Homo sapiens: one gene and its partners. The protein of the gene in region 3 interacts with the protein of the main gene of each other region in a biochemical or structural test. Each region holds a gene or a part of one and is shown on either strand. Other genes may lie near its edges.

Evidence for each region. The genes of interacting proteins can lie anywhere in the genome.
Region 1: the proteins of SIPA1L2 (region 3) and TMEM151B interact in a test that uses a peptide from one of them, tested with the Homo sapiens proteins (one large-scale study listed by IntAct).
Region 2: the proteins of SIPA1L2 (region 3) and ZNF831 interact in a test that uses a peptide from one of them, tested with the Homo sapiens proteins (one large-scale study listed by IntAct).
Region 4: the proteins of SIPA1L2 (region 3) and PDGFRB interact in a test that uses a peptide from one of them, tested with the Homo sapiens proteins (one large-scale study listed by IntAct).

The regions. Positions count from the first base shown.
Region 1 is NC_000006.12:44,268,946-44,273,959, reverse strand, and holds the start of TMEM151B (transmembrane protein 151B), read right to left. Parts: upstream 3,511-5,014; 5' UTR 3,218-3,510; coding exon 3,083-3,217; intron 895-3,082; coding exon 454-894; intron 1-453.
Region 2 is NC_000020.11:59,191,187-59,195,530, forward strand, and holds part of ZNF831 (zinc finger protein 831), read left to right. Parts: coding exon 1-3,571; intron 3,572-4,344.
Region 3 is NC_000001.11:232,458,427-232,463,117, forward strand, and holds part of SIPA1L2 (signal-induced proliferation-associated 1-like protein 2), read right to left. Parts: intron 2,736-4,691; coding exon 2,461-2,735; intron 1-2,460.
Region 4 is NC_000005.10:150,131,136-150,135,479, forward strand, and holds part of PDGFRB (platelet-derived growth factor receptor beta isoform 1 precursor), read right to left. Parts: intron 3,882-4,344; coding exon 3,615-3,881; coding exon of another isoform or gene 3,581-3,614; intron 2,874-3,580; coding exon 2,746-2,873; intron 2,626-2,745; coding exon 2,451-2,625; intron 1,808-2,450; coding exon 1,615-1,807; intron 960-1,614; coding exon 844-959; intron 1-843. UniProt on the Homo sapiens protein: Tyrosine-protein kinase that acts as a cell-surface receptor for homodimeric PDGFB and PDGFD and for heterodimers formed by PDGFA and PDGFB, and plays an essential role in the regulation of embryonic development, cell proliferation, survival, differentiation, chemotaxis and migration.

The sequences.
Region 1 (5,014 bases), on a different chromosome or scaffold from region 3:
TACAGGCCTGAGCCACCACACTCTGCCATTAATCACTAAGTAGATCCATTAAGCACTAAACAGTATAGAGATCCTGGAGCCAGATTGATTGAGTTCAAGTCTCATCTCCACCACATACTGCCTATTTGACCTTAGACACATTACTTAAACTCTCCAGGCCTCAGTTTCCTCATCTGCAAAATGGGAATACCTGCCTACATCATAGGGTTGTTATGAGGGTTAAATAAATGATTTGATGTGTGTAAAATACTTAGAGCAGAGCCTGGCTCCTGGTCGGTTTTTGCTGTTATGATTATGGTTGTTGCTATTGCCCTGCTGTTGCAATGCTCATGGGAGCTCACTGCTGCCTTTTGCTCCTCCCACCTTCCCCCCAGGGAGGTGGGGAGGGAGTGAGGCAGCACGTAAGTGCCACCTCCCATGTTGAATGTCCTGCACTCCCCACCAGCTCCTCACCTGGGTGGTGGTATAGGCGTCTCCATTGCGGTATCTGGTGACCTGGCGGGTGCGGCGGACATAGTGGTAGCTGATGGCCTTCCACCAGATGCAGGGCGTGGCTTGCTGCATGCGGCCCACACGTTCCCGCACACTGCTCACATCAACACGGTGCTGCAGCTCATGGCGGGCTTGGCAGTGCCAACACTCCACCAGGTAGACGGCGTACAACATGAGCAGGAAGGCCAGGGGGATGTAGACATAGCCGTTGGAGCAGGGGCTGTCATGGTACATGAGGCTGTTGCCCTGGTAGGCGCTGCTGAAGGTGAGGCGCGTCACTGTGGTGACGTGGCACCAGGCCACTGCCCCCAGGCAGCCGTACATGAGCAGCGAGAGCAGGAGGCACTTCCAGTGGGACTCACGGCAGAGGGACTTGGTGAAAGAGGGCTGGATGGGACGCTGCTGCTCAGGTGGGCAGGGAGAGGGGCCAAGATGAGTGGGAAGTGAGAGCAGGCAGGACCCAGCACAGAGATGGATACGGGGATGGAGGGGCAGAGGCCAGCACCAGAGATAACAGGCAGAGAGAAACAGGGATATGGAGAGAAAAGGTGAGACCAAGATGGGAGCCAGGGGCCAGAGGTAGAAACAGAAGTGACACAGAGCAAGCCAGAGGACAGGAAAGGGGACCGGAATGCCAGTACAGGAGAGTGCAGAGAGAGACACCCCAAGAGGCAGAGAAGGATCAGAGCCAGAGATAGAGGCCCAGGCAGCAAACACAGATGGATAGGATGGTACCCAGAGAGCATCCGAAGACAAACACAAAAATGGCAATGAAACAGAAGATGTGGACAGGGAAGACAGGGGAGGACAGACAGACAGGCATCAGCGAAGGAAGGTCCCCAGCCCAGACCCCTTCCAGGTCCTCTAGAAAAGGGGGAGGGACCCACTGACATCACTTCCCCACTTAACAAGTGGGGCCCTCACTTCCAGATTTTTTTCAGTCCTAGGTTCTAGAGGAGCTACTCCCCTCTGACCCATCCACCTCCCTAACCCTCACAATTAGCCTAACACGTCCTTTGGATAAGGGCCTCCAGAGAACCCCAGGCCCAGTCTCATTCCCCATGTTCTGGACCCTGGTTCCCCTGTGAGTCTCCCTCCTGCACCCTGACATCCTTCCCTTTGTCCTAGGATGGGAGGGAGGGGGCTGGGGTCCCTGAGCGGCAGGCAGTCCAGGAGGAGGTATCCAGAAGGGCAGAGGCATGTGGCTGAGGAGAGGACAGGCATAGGGGATGTGGGACTGGGGTAGCGAGGACAACGTTTGAAGCCCAGCAATTTATCAAGAGAAAATTATTTTTGGTACTCTCCTGGAGCCTGTCTGTTAAAGCTCCTGGCACATTCTGTCCCAGGGTTGGCCCAGGAGTTGTTTACATGTCTGGCTCCCCACTACACTGGGTACTCCTGAGGGCCCATGCTTCATTCTCTTTGCATCCTAGGTGCCTACCATGGTGCTGGCCCCCAGCAGCCACATCCTAATTGAGTGTTGAGTTTAATTTCTTGTAGTGGCCTCTGTTTTCCCACCCCTCCTCTGTGCTGTCTAGCTTTAGGAACCCATCCCCCACCACACACACACACACACACACACACACAACCTCCTGCTGGGATCCTGACTTACCCCCTCAATTCCTCAGGCCTGACCTAGAGGCCAGCCAGGAAAGAGAGGAAAAGAGTGGAAAAGAAGGGTACAGTAATAGGCATCGGTCCCTGGATCTAGAAGTATGGATAGTTAGGCGAGCTAGGAAATAGCACACAGTACATGTGGACAAGGAGATTAGGGTACATGTGCCTTTCGGGGAGCCTTGTCCTTAGGAGGTATGAACATACGGGCCCCTTCGTGTGCCTACCTGGTTATGTGCTTGTCCCCATGTGGGTACCTCTGAAAGGGGCTTTACCTGCAGGCCCATCCCCGCTTGTGTGCCTCTGCCCTAGTACAGGGTGCATGCGTGTGCACAAGTGTGCATGGGAGGCTGGAGTGGGGGTGCTCCTGGTACTTTCCTCCGTCTCTTTGTCTTCAGGTTCAGAGGACTGAGTACTAGGGACCCCAACTAGGGATATGAGGAAGCAGCAGGAGCCTCGTGAGAGAGAGGTGCACACCCCCCCCCACACACACACACACACACTCCCAATGACCACAGGCGGGACCCCCCGTACACATCTGACCTCCTTAGGGTCCCAGATCAGGTACCACCACCACTTCCCCATGGTACCCTCCTCGTTCTGTAGCCCGTACAAGCCGCCCTTCCTGGCCTTCAAGGTAGCATCCTCCTCTGTGAGACAGGATCCCCGCCACCGTCCCCACCCCGGTAGAGCATAGCCCCCACTCTCATAAGCCCAGGATCCGCGAGGCTCCGCCCCTAGGCCCCTCCCCCTGCCCGGGACCCCTGAGCCCCGCCCCCGGCGCGGCCCCTTCCCCGGCACCGCGGACAGCTCCGGCCGCCGGGTGGGGGCGGCGGCGCGGACTGCGGCTGCAGCGGCCGGCTCGGGGTGCGGGGCGCCGGCCGCGCTGCGGCGGAACCAGCGGGGGACGCGTGCGATGGGGGATGGGGGGCCAGGCTGCGGCCGCGCCCGGGGAAGGGGCGCCCTAGACTCTCACCTCCTCTCGGGCGGGGCCCTCGTCCGCCGCCGCCGCTGCCGCCGCCGCCGTGAGCTCCTCCGAGACCCCGGGGCCGCCACCGCCGCCGCCGCCGCCGGCGGCGCTCTCTCCCGCGGCCGAGCCAGGGGGGGACATGGCGTAGAGGGGGCGCGTCGAGCTCAGGACCTCCCGGGGGGCTGCCAGGGGCCGGGGGCATCCTGCGCGGGCCCTGGGGAGAGGACGGGAGGGGGCGGGGCCCTCGCTGCTCCCCACCCCCCGCCGGGGGAGGGGGCCCGGAAAGGGCACCGGGAGTAAGGGGCTGGGGGCTGAGGGTGGGAGGCAGGCTGGGGGGCCGGGCCGGGGGGGGCCGGGGCCGGGGGCGGGTGTCACCTTGAGGCCCTCGCGGCGCCGCTCCGCCTCCCGCCCGCTCCCGCCGCCGCCTTTTGTCTGAGCCGAGCTGGAGCCAGCGCGCCCCCCCTTTCCTGCCAGCGCAGCCGAGCCCCGCCCCCAGCCCCCCAAACTCCGCCTTCCCAAGCCTACCTAATAACCACCCCCCGAAGGGGTAAAGCAACAGGGACTCCCCACACCTCTTCCCCGCTCCCAGCCCTGCTCACTGCACCTCCCTCCCGCGCTCCTATCCTGGGAGAATCTGTGCCGCAACCCCTCTCCATCTGTTCTCCGTGGACTCGGTGCCCGAGGTTCAACCAACAGCACCCCCCCACACACACACACATCTCTGGTTCCCCCAAGTTCCCAGGGCAGAGGAGTGGGGAGAGGAAATTGATTCTTGGAACCCTAGGGAAGATCCTTACTCCCAGTTTCGTGGTGAAGGGTTAAGGCAGAAGCTAGACTTCCAGAGGAATGGAATAGGGGGAAAGGGAAGAGATTGAAGCTAGATGTGGGAAAGGACTAACAGAGGGCAGAGGGGAGGGCATTGGAACCGGCCTTCACTGAACCATCTTTCTTCCCTAAAAGAACAGCTCCAGAGAAGCAGTGAAGTGTGTGCAATACCCTAGGCTGGAGGGCAGGAAACCTGAGTTCTAATTCTGAATTCTGTATCTGTCATTAAGGAGTTATGTGACCTTGGGCAAGTGCCTTCCTGTCTCTGAGCCTTAATTTCTTCATCTGTGCAGTGAGGAAGTTGACTGGACAATTTCTAAGGCTCTGACTTGTAGGTGTAGGAAGCAAGCCAGGCTGAGCCACTGCAGGCAGCCTATCCTTTCAGGCCATCCACCCCACACTGCTTTTCCCTGTATCCCCTGGCACAGCAGGAAGGACCCTGACATTTATTCATTCATTCATTTCTGGATGTCTCCATTCAGTAAACAGGTGTTGGGTACCTATTGTGTGCCCAGTACAGAAATGAAACACAGTTTCCTTCCTGCAAGGAGCACAAAGTCTAATGGGGAGAAAAGAACATGAAAAACAACCATTATGAAGAATATAATAAAAGCCATGCATGATCAATCTTGTGCATACACAGTCACTGTGGAATCCTACTATGTGTCATTAGAGTCTTTGACATACAGTAACTGTTCTCCCCAATTACTCACAGGGAACCAAGGCAGAGGGAGAGTGAATGGCTTACTCAAGGTCACCTGCTAGCACTCACAGAGCTAGTCCTAGAATTCAGATCTTTCCCACTCAAAATCTATGGGGAATATTTGTGGGTAGGAAGTTAGTTTGGGGCAAAGCCTCGATGTCTGATTTTGGGGGATAGGGTACAAACACACTGATCTGCCCAGGATGTTCCTTCCCCTTGTTGGGGACAGGAGAGCCACTGCTCCCACCCCTCTAGTCCCACTCCTGGCCCTGCCTTCATTTTACTACTCTTCCCTTTCCAGGTGAGGTGAAGGTGGCTCTCTGTCCACCTATTGCTTAGAGCTATCCAGCCTGCATGGTCCTCTCCAGGTTGATGGGTCCATTCTCCCTGCCCAGAGGAAGGCGGCTGTC
Region 2 (4,344 bases), on a different chromosome or scaffold from region 3:
GGCCCTGCCCATCCCACTGTACCACACGGTGCCTCCCGGGGGCCTCCAGCCCCGCGCCCCGCTAGTGACGGGCAGCCTAGATGGGGGCAACGTGCCCTTCATACTCAGCCCTGTGCTGCAGCCTGAAGGGCCTGGCCCCACCCAGGTGGGGAAGCCGGCGGCCCCTACGCTGACGGTGAACATCGTGGGCACTCTGCCTGTCCTGTCGCCGGGCCTGGGCCCCACGCTGGGCAGCCCAGGCAAGGTGCGGAATGCGGGCAAGTACCTGTGTCCGCACTGTGGTCGCGACTGCCTGAAGCCCAGTGTTCTAGAGAAGCACATCCGGTCCCACACGGGTGAGAGGCCCTTCCCGTGTGCCACCTGCGGCATCGCCTTTAAGACCCAGAGCAATCTCTACAAGCACAGGCGGACGCAGACGCACCTCAACAACTCCCGGCTGTCCTCAGAGTCCGAGGGCGCCGGGGGCGGCCTCCTGGAGGAAGGGGACAAGGCCGGAGAGCCCCCCAGACCAGAGGGCAGGGGCGAGAGCAGGTGCCAGGGGATGCACGAAGGCGCCTCGGAGAGACCCCTTTCTCCGGGTGCCCACGTGCCCCTACTTGCCAAGAACCTGGATGTGAGGACCGAAGCTGCTCCCTGTCCAGGGTCCGCATTTGCCGACAGAGAGGCTCCTTGGGACTCTGCCCCCATGGCGTCACCTGGGCTCCCAGCGGCCAGCACACAACCCTGGCGTAAGTTGCCAGAGCAGAAGTCGCCGACCGCCGGGAAGCCGTGCGCCCTGCAGCGGCAGCAGGCGACGGCAGCGGAGAAGCCCTGGGATGCCAAGGCCCCCGAGGGCCGGCTGCGGAAGTGTGAGAGCACCGACTCGGGGTACCTGTCGCGCTCCGACAGCGCGGAGCAGCCGCATGCGCCCTGCAGCCCCCTGCACAGCCTTTCGGAGCACAGCGCCGAGTCCGAGGGGGAGGGCGGCCCGGGCCCGGGGCCAGGGGTCGCAGGGGCCGAGCCCGGGGCGCGAGAAGCCGGCCTGGAGCTGGAGAAGAAGCGGCTGGAGGAGCGCATCGCCCAGCTCATCTCCCACAACCAGGCGGTGGTGGACGATGCCCAGCTGGACAACGTGCGGCCCCGGAAGACCGGGCTGTCCAAACAGGGCAGCATCGACCTGCCCACGCCCTACACCTACAAGGACTCCTTCCACTTTGACATCCGCGCGCTGGAGCCAGGCCGTAGGAGGGCCCCGGGCCCCGTGCGCTCCACCTGGACGCCCCCAGACAAGTCTCGGCCCCTCTTCTTCCACTCCGTCCCCACTCAGCTCTCCACCACCGTGGAATGTGTCCCCGTCACCAGGAGCAACTCGCTGCCCTTCGTCGAGGGCTCCAGGACGTGGCTGGAGCCCAGGGAGCCCCGGGACCCCTGGTCCAGGACGCAGAAGCCTCTGAGCCCCAGGCCCGGCCCAGCCCGCCTGGGCTGCCGCTCGGGACTAAGCTCGACTGACGTTCCCAGTGGGCATCCCCGGGCCCTGGTCAGACAGGCCGCGGTGGAGGACCTGCCAGGCACCCCCATTGGCGATGCCCTGGTGCCCGCAGAGGACACAGACGCAAAGAGAACTGCTGCGCGGGAGGCCATGGCCGGCAAGGGCAGAGCGGGCGGCAGGAAGTGCGGCCAGAGAAGGCTGAAGATGTTCTCCCAGGAGAAGTGGCAGGTGTACGGGGATGAGACGTTCAAAAGGATCTACCAGAAAATGAAAGCCAGTCCCCATGGAGGCAAGAAAGCCAGGGAGGTGGGAATGGGCAGTGGGGCAGAACTGGGCTTTCCTCTGCAGAAAGAGGCAGCAGGGAGCTCAGGCACAGTCCCCACCCAAGACAGGAGGACCCCTGTCCATGAGGACATATCCGCAGGGGCAACGCCAGAGCCTTGGGGAAATCCACCAGCCCTGGAGGCCTCCTTGGTGACTGAACCCACTAAGCATGGGGAGACGGTGGCCAGGAGAGGAGACAGTGACCGACCCAGGGTGGAAGAGGCTGTGTCATCCCCTGCACTGGGTGGCAGAGACAGTCCCTGTTCAGGCAGTAGGAGCCCCCTGGTCTCTCCAAATGGGAGGCTGGAACTGGGGTGGCAGATGCCCCCAGCACCTGGCCCCCTCAAAGGGGGTGATGTAGAGGCTCCCAGGCCAGTTTGGCCGGACCCCAAGCTGGAAGGAGGTGCCCGAGGTGTGGGGGATGTTCAGGAGACCTGCCTGTGGGCCCAGACTGTCCTGAGATGGCCCAGCAGGGGCTCAGGGGAGGACAAGCTCCCCTCAGAGAGGAAGAAGCTGAAAGTGGAGGACCTGCACAGCTGGAAGCAACCAGAGCCTGTGAGCGCAGAGACCCCAGGTGGGCCCACGCAGCCTGCCTCTTTGTCATCCCAGAAGCAGGATGCCGATCCCGGGGAGGTGCCAGGGGGCTCAAAGGAGAGTGCCAGGCAGGTGGGCGAGCCTCTGGAGTCCTCTGGAGCCTCCTTGGCTGCTGCTTCTGTTGCCCTGAAGAGGGTGGGGCCAAGGGACAAGGCTACCCCACTGCATCCTGCAGCCCCAGCCCCCGCAGAGCACCCCTCGCTGGCCACCCCACCTCAGGCTCCTAGAGTGCTCTCTGCCCTGGCAGATAATGCCTTTTCCCCCAAGTACCTCCTCAGGTTACCTCAGGCAGAGACCCCCTTACCACTGCCCATTCCCTGGGGACCAAGGCACAGCCAGGACTCTCTCTGCAGCAGTGGGTGGCCTGAAGAACGGGCATCATTTGTTGGGTCAGGACTGGGGACCCCTCTTTCTCCCAGCCCAGCCTCAGGCCCCTCCCCAGGTGAGGCGGACAGCATCCTGGAGGACCCCAGCTGTTCCAGGCCACAGGATGGGAGAAAAGGGGCACAGTTGGGGGGGGACAAGGGGGACAGGATGGCCACTAGCAGGCCAGCAGCCAGGGAGTTGCCCATCTCAGCACCAGGGGCTCCCAGGGAGGCTACCTCCTCCCCGCCCACTCCAACGTGTGAGGCACACTTAGTTCAGGACATGGAGGGTGACAGCCACCGTATCCATCGCCTCTGCATGGGCAGCACTTTGGCAAGGGCCAGGCTCTCTGGGGATGTCCTGAATCCCTGGGTACCCAACTGGGAGCTGGGGGAGCCTCCTGGGAATGCCCCAGAAGATCCTTCTTCAGGGCCCCTGGTGGGCCCCGACCCGTGTTCCCCCCTCCAGCCTGGCTCCTTCCTCACTGCCCTCACTCGGCCTCAGGGTGTGCCCCCAGGCTGGCCAGAGCTGGCCTTGTCTTCCCACTCAGGGACGTCCCGGAGCCACAGCACCCGCAGTCCCCACAGCACCCAAAACCCCTTTCCCTCACTGAAGGCTGAGCCGCGGCTCACGTGGTGTTGCCTGAGCCGCAGTGTCCCTCTGCCCGCGGAGCAGAAGGCAAAGGCGGCATCTGTGTACTTGGCGGTGCACTTTCCTGGTAGCAGCCTCCGAGATGAGGGTCCCAATGGCCCTCCTGGGAGCAATGGAGGATGGACCTGGACAAGCCCTGGAGAAGGAGGGCCGGCGCAGATGTCCAAGGTAAAGCTGGGCTTTGCCCCAGGGCCCGGGGTTGAGAGAGCATGTTGTTATCCCGTAAGACCTCTCATGAGGGAAGGAAGTCTGAAGCCGTCCCATGTAGCATCTGCTGTTCACTGCTTGCTTGTTCCTGAGGGAGGCTGGGGATACCACATAGACAGCAGGAAGGAATAAAGGCCCAAATGCAAACCAAAACAGAGTTGCGGAAAACATAAATTCCAAAGGAAAGAATTACTGTACTCAAGACATGAGGTGAGATAGTCTTCATAACCAAATGTAAAATTTAACTGAGCTTCCTGGTAACAGAAGCAAAAAGTAAAATGAAACACTCCATCAGAGAGGTGAGCTCTCTGGATCATTCTAAGATTATAAGCCAGAGACTCCCAATAATTGAGAGAGTCTTTATACTGGGGATTCTGGAGAAGGAATTACTGTTGATTGGACTCAGCCCTCTCTCTGAGGTTCCTGGGGGCAGAGAGAAAAGGGGGAAATGTGGTGGATGCTCACAGGTGTTCTCACTTGGTGAAGAAATGATAATGCAGAGCTCCACCTTGAGAGGGGGTTCACGCACCTGGTTGTGATGACTGAGGGCTTAGTCCTGCTCTGGAGTGGCTTGGGCCGCGGCCACTGAGGACGGTCCTGGAGGCTCAGCAGTCATTTAACCTTTGTGGACAGTGACAAAGGCCCGGAGACCAGAGTCTTGCAGGCTGTTCGGCTTTCCCTAGGTGGAACCCAAAGTTGTGGGGAGTGCTGTTTTCATCTTGAGAGTAGCGGGT
Region 3 (4,691 bases):
ATTCTATCCTCCTAAATTGTATTTCTAAATACCAAATATCACGACAACTTTACCATTTTTATTAAACAGATCTCTTGAAAGCTTTAAAAATTTCTTACTAACAGTAAACCAAAACTAAAAATAGGCAAGAAATGTTATTTTTTAACCCAAAGGAAGCGCAAGGTAACATTTTTGTCCAATTCTATAGTAATCGGCTGCTAGGACAGATAAAAGACTTGATACAAAGGCAGATAAAAGACTGATTCTTATCTTAATAATTAAAAACCTGTATTTCTACTAAGGAAGACAGAAATCTTACTGTATGAAAAAATTTCTAACAAATGCTGGAAAATGTACTATAAAAGAATTTTACATATACAGTACTTTAGCTTTTAAGGCCTAAAGGATTTGCCTTTTGTTATTTCCAAGACTCATTTTTAATAAATTAATTTTTTATTTTCTTTGGACTCATAGCAGTACATGTGATTCATGGGACTCTGGAAAAGCAGACAGATTCAACTAGGCAGAATCAGGCAAGGCAATAAGAAACATCTTAACACGGGACTGATACTCTACAGAGAAAACTTAGTTTCTTAAATCCTTATTTTATAAACACACTGGGCAAATACAGGAAACAAGGCCACAGAAAGTGAGGCTGGAGGCAAATGCTAAGATAACTAATAGAGAAAGATTTTTGCAAGATTTTGCACATTAACCATAGAGGAAGACAGTGTAAGTGGCTTTTTTTCCTAAAAGGAGATCATGGTTTAGCTGATCTATCCAATATGGCAGCCACTAGCAACACGTGGCCAATTAAATGTAAATTAATTAAAAGGAAAAATTCGTTTCCTAAGTTGCACTACAGTTCATGTACGTAATAGCCACATGTGGTTTGTGGCTACTGCTCTGAACGGTACAGACACAGATCACTGTAGAAAGTGCTAATGGAGAGTGCTGGCTTAAAGGAGGAAGAAAGGAAACAGAGAAAGGAGAGAGTATGACCTAGGTTAGTAAGTCCAGAAAGTAGACCCAACAATCCTACTATCTTTGGATAATCAGAATTTATTTTTTCATATGAAAGAAATTAAAATGAATATGCTAAAGTTTTATTTATTATTATTATTTGAGATGCAGTCTCACTCTGCCACCCATGCTGGCGTACAGAGGCACGATCTCAGCTCAGTGCAGCCTCGACCTCCCAGGCTCAAGGGATCCTCCTACCTTCCCCTTCTGAGTAGCTGGGACTACAGGTGCACACTACTGCACCTGGCTAATTTTTGTATTTTTTGAAGAGATGGGGTTTTGCCATGTTGTCCAGGCTGCTCTCAAACTCCTGGGCTCAAGCGATCTGCCCACCTCGACCTCCCAAAGTGCTGGGATTACAGGTGTGAGCCATAGCGCCCAGCCCCTAAAGTTTTATTTTTCTAAATTAAATGTGTGGGGCAATTATGCTAGAAGGTTCTAAGTGCTTTACATGTGTTACTTTATTTCATCTTCATTGAAATCATAGGAGGTAGGCGATATAATAATCCCATCTTACAGAGAGTAAGTGAGACTTAGAGAGAGTGTGTGAGTTGCCCCAGGCCACACAGCAAATTCCTGGATTCCAAGCATACTTTGTCTCTCAAAAGCCAGAGCTCTTAAGGCTGCCTGTACGAACTCCATTTGGGAATGAAGATAGAGGGAAGGTGCTCTAGATACTACCACCAGTCATGCATTAACACAAGTAGTGGGCCACAGCCTCAATAAACGGCTCCTTCTTAATTAGCATTCTTTCTCCTTTTGGCCTAATATTTTATGTTGGGCATGATTATTTTCTATTAGTAATGTAATAGTATTGCTTTCTAACCCCGTTCTTATCCCAGCCCTCCACCTATCCGCCTCTGAACCTTCCAAGTCTAGCCGTTCCTTTTCATCTATTTCTCCTGACAGTTTATGATAACGCCCTGAACCAGTTCAACATCTCTCAAGCTTCAATTGAGAATGGAGTATTTACCACAGAGAGTACCTGTGCTGTTCCAACATTCTTTCATACCTACAACTATTGGTCTGTTAAATATTTTTTAAATAATCAATGGCTTCATGTTATGGGAAGAAATTCTAACTGAATAGTTAAGTATTTAATGTGCTCAAGGCTGAGCTGTGATACAGAATTATTTCCTCTTAGATATAAGAGGTCCAGGGGAACCAGGCAGGTGCTCTTCCCCTTAGTTCAGAATAGCTCAGCTTTAATGTAGTCAATGTTCCATTAAAATGCTTAGCAAATTATTTTTTATCATCTATTACATATTTTAAAGCTCCTTTTCAATTCCTCGAACGAGTGACATCCCAACAACATTGTACAAATGAGTGACATCCCAGAACACTGTACAAAGACACACTTGACTGCATTTTCTGAGGACCTTGCAGGAGCACTGAGGACAGCCACCTGCTACAGAGGCAAAGGAGGAGTGAGCATTACTTGGGCCTCCCACGCCTTACCTTCGGGGCGAGCCGTCATCATGGGGCTGGATGATGACCACCTTCACAGTCACAGAAGTACGGAGCAGGTCGATCATCTGCTCGTGGGTCAGAGTGGCCACGGCTACTTTGCAGATCTCCACGAGGCGGCTCCCTTGGCGAAGGCCAGCCTTCCAGGCAAAGCCAAAAGGTTCCACATCTGCGACAATTCCTTCAAAATTCACATGGAAGCCAAGCTGGCCCAGCCCGTTCCTCCTCAGGGTCATTTCCACAGTCTCGCAGCCTCTCGTCACTATCTAAGGGGGAAGGAGACTGTTAGAGATGCCCTTCCTGCCCAAGCTGCCATGGGGCTCTGCCAAAGGTGCACGTATGGGCCTCCATGCCAGCCCTCTCCCTTGGGCCCTCGCAGCCCAGCCTGTCTCTCTCTGCCTTTTCCTCAAACTGTCCAAGTGACAGGACAAGGACACATTTAAGTTCAGAGCTGATCACAATTAACATTTGCATCAAGTGCAAAGAAAATAACAGAAGCAAAGCAATGGTTTCATTCTTCATTCTAAGTCATATCTGTTCTTGATACAGGTGTCCTGCTTTCTTAGATGTCACTGACCCAGAGCTTGAGAGCTTCAGATGGGCTCAGATAATTCCCGTTTTTCCTTTATTAGGTAAATTGACTTGACTTTTAAGCATATAAATCCCATCGTTCTAGATGGATTTTTGCAATGGAAAACCTGTAAAGACTTTGTGGACCATTACAAGTTTCAACCAGCAAGCACTAAAAACCATGAGACAATTTATTCATCCCAAGCAAAGAAAAACACCCCAAAGCACTTGAAAGCTAACGCTTAAGAGCCCACTCTGAGGTTCAGGAAGGGCAGTGGCAGAAAGTCAGAGCTTTAGGAAAACTCTAAATGTTCTCTACGCACCAGCCCTAGGGACATACTGTGGAGTGTTCTGTCCCCTAGGGTCCTTCTCTTGAGGACAGACAACTGCCTATGCTTGCCTGAGTGGTGAGGACCACTCAGATCCATGGTGGGGGCAGGCCAGCCAGACTCCTTGGCCATCTGTTCACAAGGCAAGTGTGTAGGATGGTGCTCTGGCAGGCAGCAGACAGACCCTCTGTGCTTATGGGCTGCCTCTCCTCCACTAGGCCTGTCTCCTAGGGGCTGAGGGCAGCCCCAAGCAATGGAAGCCTCAGTGTATGTACCTTACTCAAGAGTGAGAGAGAGTCAACAGCAGTTCCACAAAAAGGAACATGAAAGAAGAATGGTGGATTGCATCCCACTTGGTACATTAAAGCACCACTAATGCAGCCCTCAAAAGCACTCACCGAGCATAGTTTACATCCAATGAAAGAAAAACATGGGCTCATTAAGTATCACCCGATGACTATGACCTCACCTATCTGTGGGAATTTCAAGTTGGGAGGTATCATACTCCTATCCCCAAAAGCCCAGAGGCAATGTATGAAGTTTCAGTTTAATGAACACTCCATTTCTATGAAACATGCTCTGACTACATAGATACCTATTTAATAAGACCTATGACAGTAAGTACAGCTGTGGGACTGGGGCTGGTTCATGTATCACCACTGTGTCTGATGTTTCCATGGTTACCACAAGTGCACACAATGCCAATCAGCTTTTCCCAGACAGGCATGACAGTTCACGACTCAGCAAAATGCGGAAAGGGGACTGCTGGTTTTAGTTAGTGATGATGTTTTAGAATATTGACGTTTCTAAAGTCATGAACTGAAGTAACTAAAACTTGAAGAAGTAGTTCTGTAATAGGCACAACACAAATAAATTTTGGTCACTTCTTTTTCAACTTTGTTCTAAGCAATCCTATCAAAAGACGACACATAAGATGTACCCAGCCTTCTTTCAAATATCAATGCGATTATCAGGTGAAGTTTATCATCCATGTATCAGGCTGAAGAGTTATTGGCTGAGCCTTTCCAGAGTCCTCCAGCTCTGGCTCTTCTGCTCATTTCCTCCAATCACCTGCCACCTCCCCTACTTTGTCTTTTTGCTATTTCTTTATCCCCTCTGTTTATTGCTTCCTAACATCCCCAAAGTCTGAAGTAAGGTGTTCTCCATGTATTTGGACTTCTTCCATGGACCCAATTATCACACGAAAATTGTAGTCTCCAAGCCAGGACTGGCTATGTAATTTGTGGGGCCACAAGAAAAATCAAAATGCGAGGCTCCTTATGAAAAAATTAGTAAGTATTTCAAGATGGCAATGGCAGAGCA
Region 4 (4,344 bases), on a different chromosome or scaffold from region 3:
CATTTCTCTGCTCAAAACCCTGCCATGGCTCTTCATTTCGGTCATAGTAAAAGCCAAAGTCTGCACCAGGCCCACAAAGACCTATGCGATTTGCCCTTCTCCCAGCCCCCACTGCCCTATCCCCGTTCTGACTTCATCTCCCACCACTCTCCCCAACAGCCCTGTTCCAACCACACAAGCCTTTCAGTGATTGCTCTGGCCTTTGCACTGCCCGAGGTACCCTTTCCCCAAATATCCACTAAGCTAATGTCCTCACCTTCTTCAGGTCTTCATGCAAATGTCACTTCCTCAGCCCTGATCACTGTATCAAAAATGCAACTCACACCATCACTCTGTGCCCAGCACTCTCAACCTTCCCTACCCGGCCCCTGTTTTTCCTCTCCCGCAGTGTTAGTTACCTTCTAACCTATGTAATTTGCTGGGGTTTTCCTCCCTACTGTTAGTGTTTGTCTTCCCCTACTTGGATGCAAGCTGCACAAAGGCAGGGAGGGAAGTTCAAGAACCTTGAAGAGACAGGCATATGGTAGTTGCTCAATAAATACCTATCGAGTTAATAGTACAGTATAAGTGGAATGTGAGAAGGGAAAATCATGGCCTTGGTACCTAAGTGCCTGAAGTTTTGGAAACACCAATCTAGCCAGATGGCCTCCTTATACAGCTGGGGAAACTGAGGCCCAGAGGCCAGGTTCACACGGCAGTGGGTCAGTGGCCTAGAATCCATCTCCTGAGTTCCAGGCTCCCTCTCCCACTCCTCCCATGGGTGGGTGGACAGTGCAGGAAGGGAGAGGGAACGGGGGCAGGGAGGGGAAGGAGCAGGGACATGGCGAGGGGCGTGCTCATCACCATTGATCTGTAGCTGGAAGGAGAGCTGGACCTCAGCATCCTCATGGAAGGCCCGCATGGTGTAGTGGCCAGCCTCTGCCACCTTCACGCGAACCAGTGTCAGCTCTGACACATACCTGGGGAGCAGGAAAGGCAGCTGTCAGAGTCGGAAGGACTCTTACAGTTCTCCCCACCCTCCTGGTATAAAGAGGAACAAGGCCCAGGGAGGGGAAGGGCTTGCCAAGGTCATCTCGGCATTGGTAGCAGAGCCGGGACTCAAACCAGGTCTCGTAAATCCTCACCCACAGGCAGTTCCCCTAGGCCAAGAGGGAGGGTTGAGATGAACTGTGGGTGGGGGTGGGGAGCATTGAAGGAAAGTCCTATTTCTCTCCCCTTCAGAAAGGTGGACACTGCTCCATCCTAACCTACCACAGTCTCTGTCAGCCAGCAAATCTCCAGCCTCAGGGATACCACAGGCCATGAGTGGCCTGCCTGGCACCCTCTTCCCCAGTCATCTGCCCGTTTACTTCTTGGCTGCTACTGCTGGCCCCACCCATCACAAGGACAACTAAACATCTGGGTGATCATCTGACCGGCGACTGTTTCCTCCACTAGACTAGAAACTCTAGGAGGGATGAACTGTCAGCTCTGGTCGCTGCAGCATCCCCAGCACCTGGCACCTAATATGCTCTCAGAAAGCTGGGCCTAGGTTTGTGGCTGAAAGCCGAGGGCTGCCTGGCGGCTGCAAAGAAAAATAACTTCAAGAATGGGATGGGAGAGCGAGCTGCTCACCGGGTCTCCGACACGTTGCGCGTGGACAGGGCGATTTCGCCAGCGCTGGAGTCGCCCAGGGTGCGGTTGTCTTTGAACCACAGGACAGTGGGCGGTGGGTAGGCCTCGAACACTACCTGCAGTGTCCGGCTCCGATGCAGCTCAGCAAATTGTAGTGTGCCCACCTCTCCCAGGAGCCGCACGTAGCCGCTCTCTGCAAGGGGTGACCGTCAGGGGCGGGGCCCTGGGGGCAGGGCACCAACTGAATCCCAAAGGAGGCCAGCCTGTGGGGTGGGGCTTCAGGCCTGGGGACCGTGCCAGCCATGGAGTTTCCGGAGCTGAGGTTGAAATTGGGCTGGGGACAGGGCCTGGAGAAGGGGCCGAATTTGGGGCTAATATGGATGCTGGGGCCAGCTCCCAGGTTGGGAACAGAGTTGTACTAACAGTTCTCTGTTCTGGGTCAGTACTGTGGCTGATGCTGGGACTAGTGATAAGGTTGAATTTGGGGATGGGGCTTCCCGGACCTGGGATGGCAGTTGGGCTTGGAAGTCAGGTTGGGGCTGGGGCTCTGGCTAGTCAGAAAGTCTAGGTTGAGATAGGGTTGGATTTGGGGCTGACACTACATTTTGGTTTGGGGTTTATCCTGGAATTGGGGTTTTGGTTGGCACAGAGGCTAGCTAGGGCTGCACTGGAGTGTGGCTGACTATACCCCGGGGCTGTGACAGGCACTGGGTCCAGCTCAGCCCTGATCACTGTATCAAAAATGCAACTCTCACCATCACTCTGCACCCAGCAAAGTGGGTGAGGGTGGGGAGCGTTGAAGGAATTGGGGATTGGGCTGAGCCCAAGGCACACACCAACCACGGTGATGTTGATGGCCTTTTCATCCTGATGGTCATTCACACTCTCCGTCACATTGCAGGTGTAGGTCCCCGAGTCTTCTAACTCGGCACTGGGGATGTGCAGGATGGAGCGGATGTGGTAAGGCATATCCAAGAGGAAGTCAGTCACCGGCTCCACCAGCCGCCCACTCTGCAGCAACAGGTTGGGCAGGCCCCCCAAATCAGGAGGGGCCGGGGAGAAATCAGCCTGCAAGCCAGATATCCACCCGTTCCTGGCCCCTCCTCCGACCCCTGCCTGGCCCCACATTACTTCTTTGCGGGGGTATGTCCACTCGAAGTTGACCACCTCATTCCCGATCACAATGCACATGAGGGTGATGTTCTCACCCTGGCGGACCACAGTCTGCACTGCGTTCACAGAGACGTTGATGGATGACACTGGTAGAGAGAGATTGGCTTAGGTCTGGGGAAGTCACCACCAGCCACTAGCACTTCAGCTTGGGGATAGGGTAGGGGGCTAGAGAGGGAAAGGATGACTGATGTAGAAGATTCATTCATTCAACAAATATTTACTGAATACCTACTACATGCCAAGTACTATTCTGGACACTGGAGCAACAGTAGTGAACAAAGTGGACAAAATCTCTGTTCTTATGGAGCTGACGTTCTAGAAGGGATAACAGTCTGGAAATCAAAGTACCCTCTGGAGATCTATGTACAGGAGAAATGTATTGAGCACATAACATGTGCCAGGTACTCTCCATCTTTTATTTAATCTTCACAATTGATCCTATGAGGTAGGCAGCCATTGTTATCCCCACGTTACAAGAGGGGAAGCAGGCTCAGAGAGATTATGTGCTTTGTGTAAAGTCACTCAGACAGGAAATAGCAAAGCTGGGATTTCGACCCAGCTGGCTCTGAAGCTTGTGCCCTCACCGACCATGTTGCACAGGCCAGCTCTGCCACTATCGAATTCTGCGACAGGGGACAAGCTCCATCCTCTCTCTGCGCCTGAGTTTCCCTCTTCTGTAACATGGGGAAAACACTATCTTCCTTCGAAGGCTGTGGTGAGAATCCACTGGGAAGTGGAGTCCCACACTTTGTAAACTGTAAAGGGCTATTCCTCTGTGGAGGGTTATACTTGCCTCTGCTGAGCATCAGGCCAGAAAGGGGGCTCACCCTGGAGTCTGTAGACATAGTAGGCATCAGAATCCACCTCCCTGTCCCCAATGGTGGTTTTGCAGATGTAGCTTCTGTCCTCAAAGATACCAGAAAAGCCACGTTGGTGATCATAGGGGACAGGCAGTGCAACGTCCCCTTTCTTCTCGTGCAGTGTCACCACCAGCTGTGGGTCTGTTACTCGGCATGGAATGGTGATCTCAGTTATTTCCGTGAGAAAGATGAATAGTTCCTCGGCATCATTAGGGAGGAAGCCCACGGTGGGATCTGCCAGGAGTGGAGCCGTGAATAAATCAGGGGAACTGGGTTTCTGGCCATCCCCTGAATTGCTGTGTGGCAAGTCATTTGCCATCTCTGGCCCTCTGTCTCCCCGTTACAGAATAGGGATGCTCCCAGAAGAGCATAAATCAAATGTTAGAGCTGGTCCCTTCCAGCTCTAATGTTTGATATTGACAGTGCCAGGGTAAGAAAGAAGGCAAGTCACAAGTTGAAATGCAGCTGATATCTGGAGCTTGGAGAATGGGGAAGAAGGGATGTGGGGTCAAGAGGGAGCAGATTGGAAGCAGCTGAGAATATAGAGTTCTTGGGAGGCAGGAATAGGGTGACTGGCAGGGAGCAGGCAGATCACCCAGACCAAGGAGTGGGTGCGAACACACTCCCCGACTGAGCCAGGCTGGTTCCATGATTGTCTGCTTTTCTAGGATGGCTGCATTTCACAATAAACTAAAGC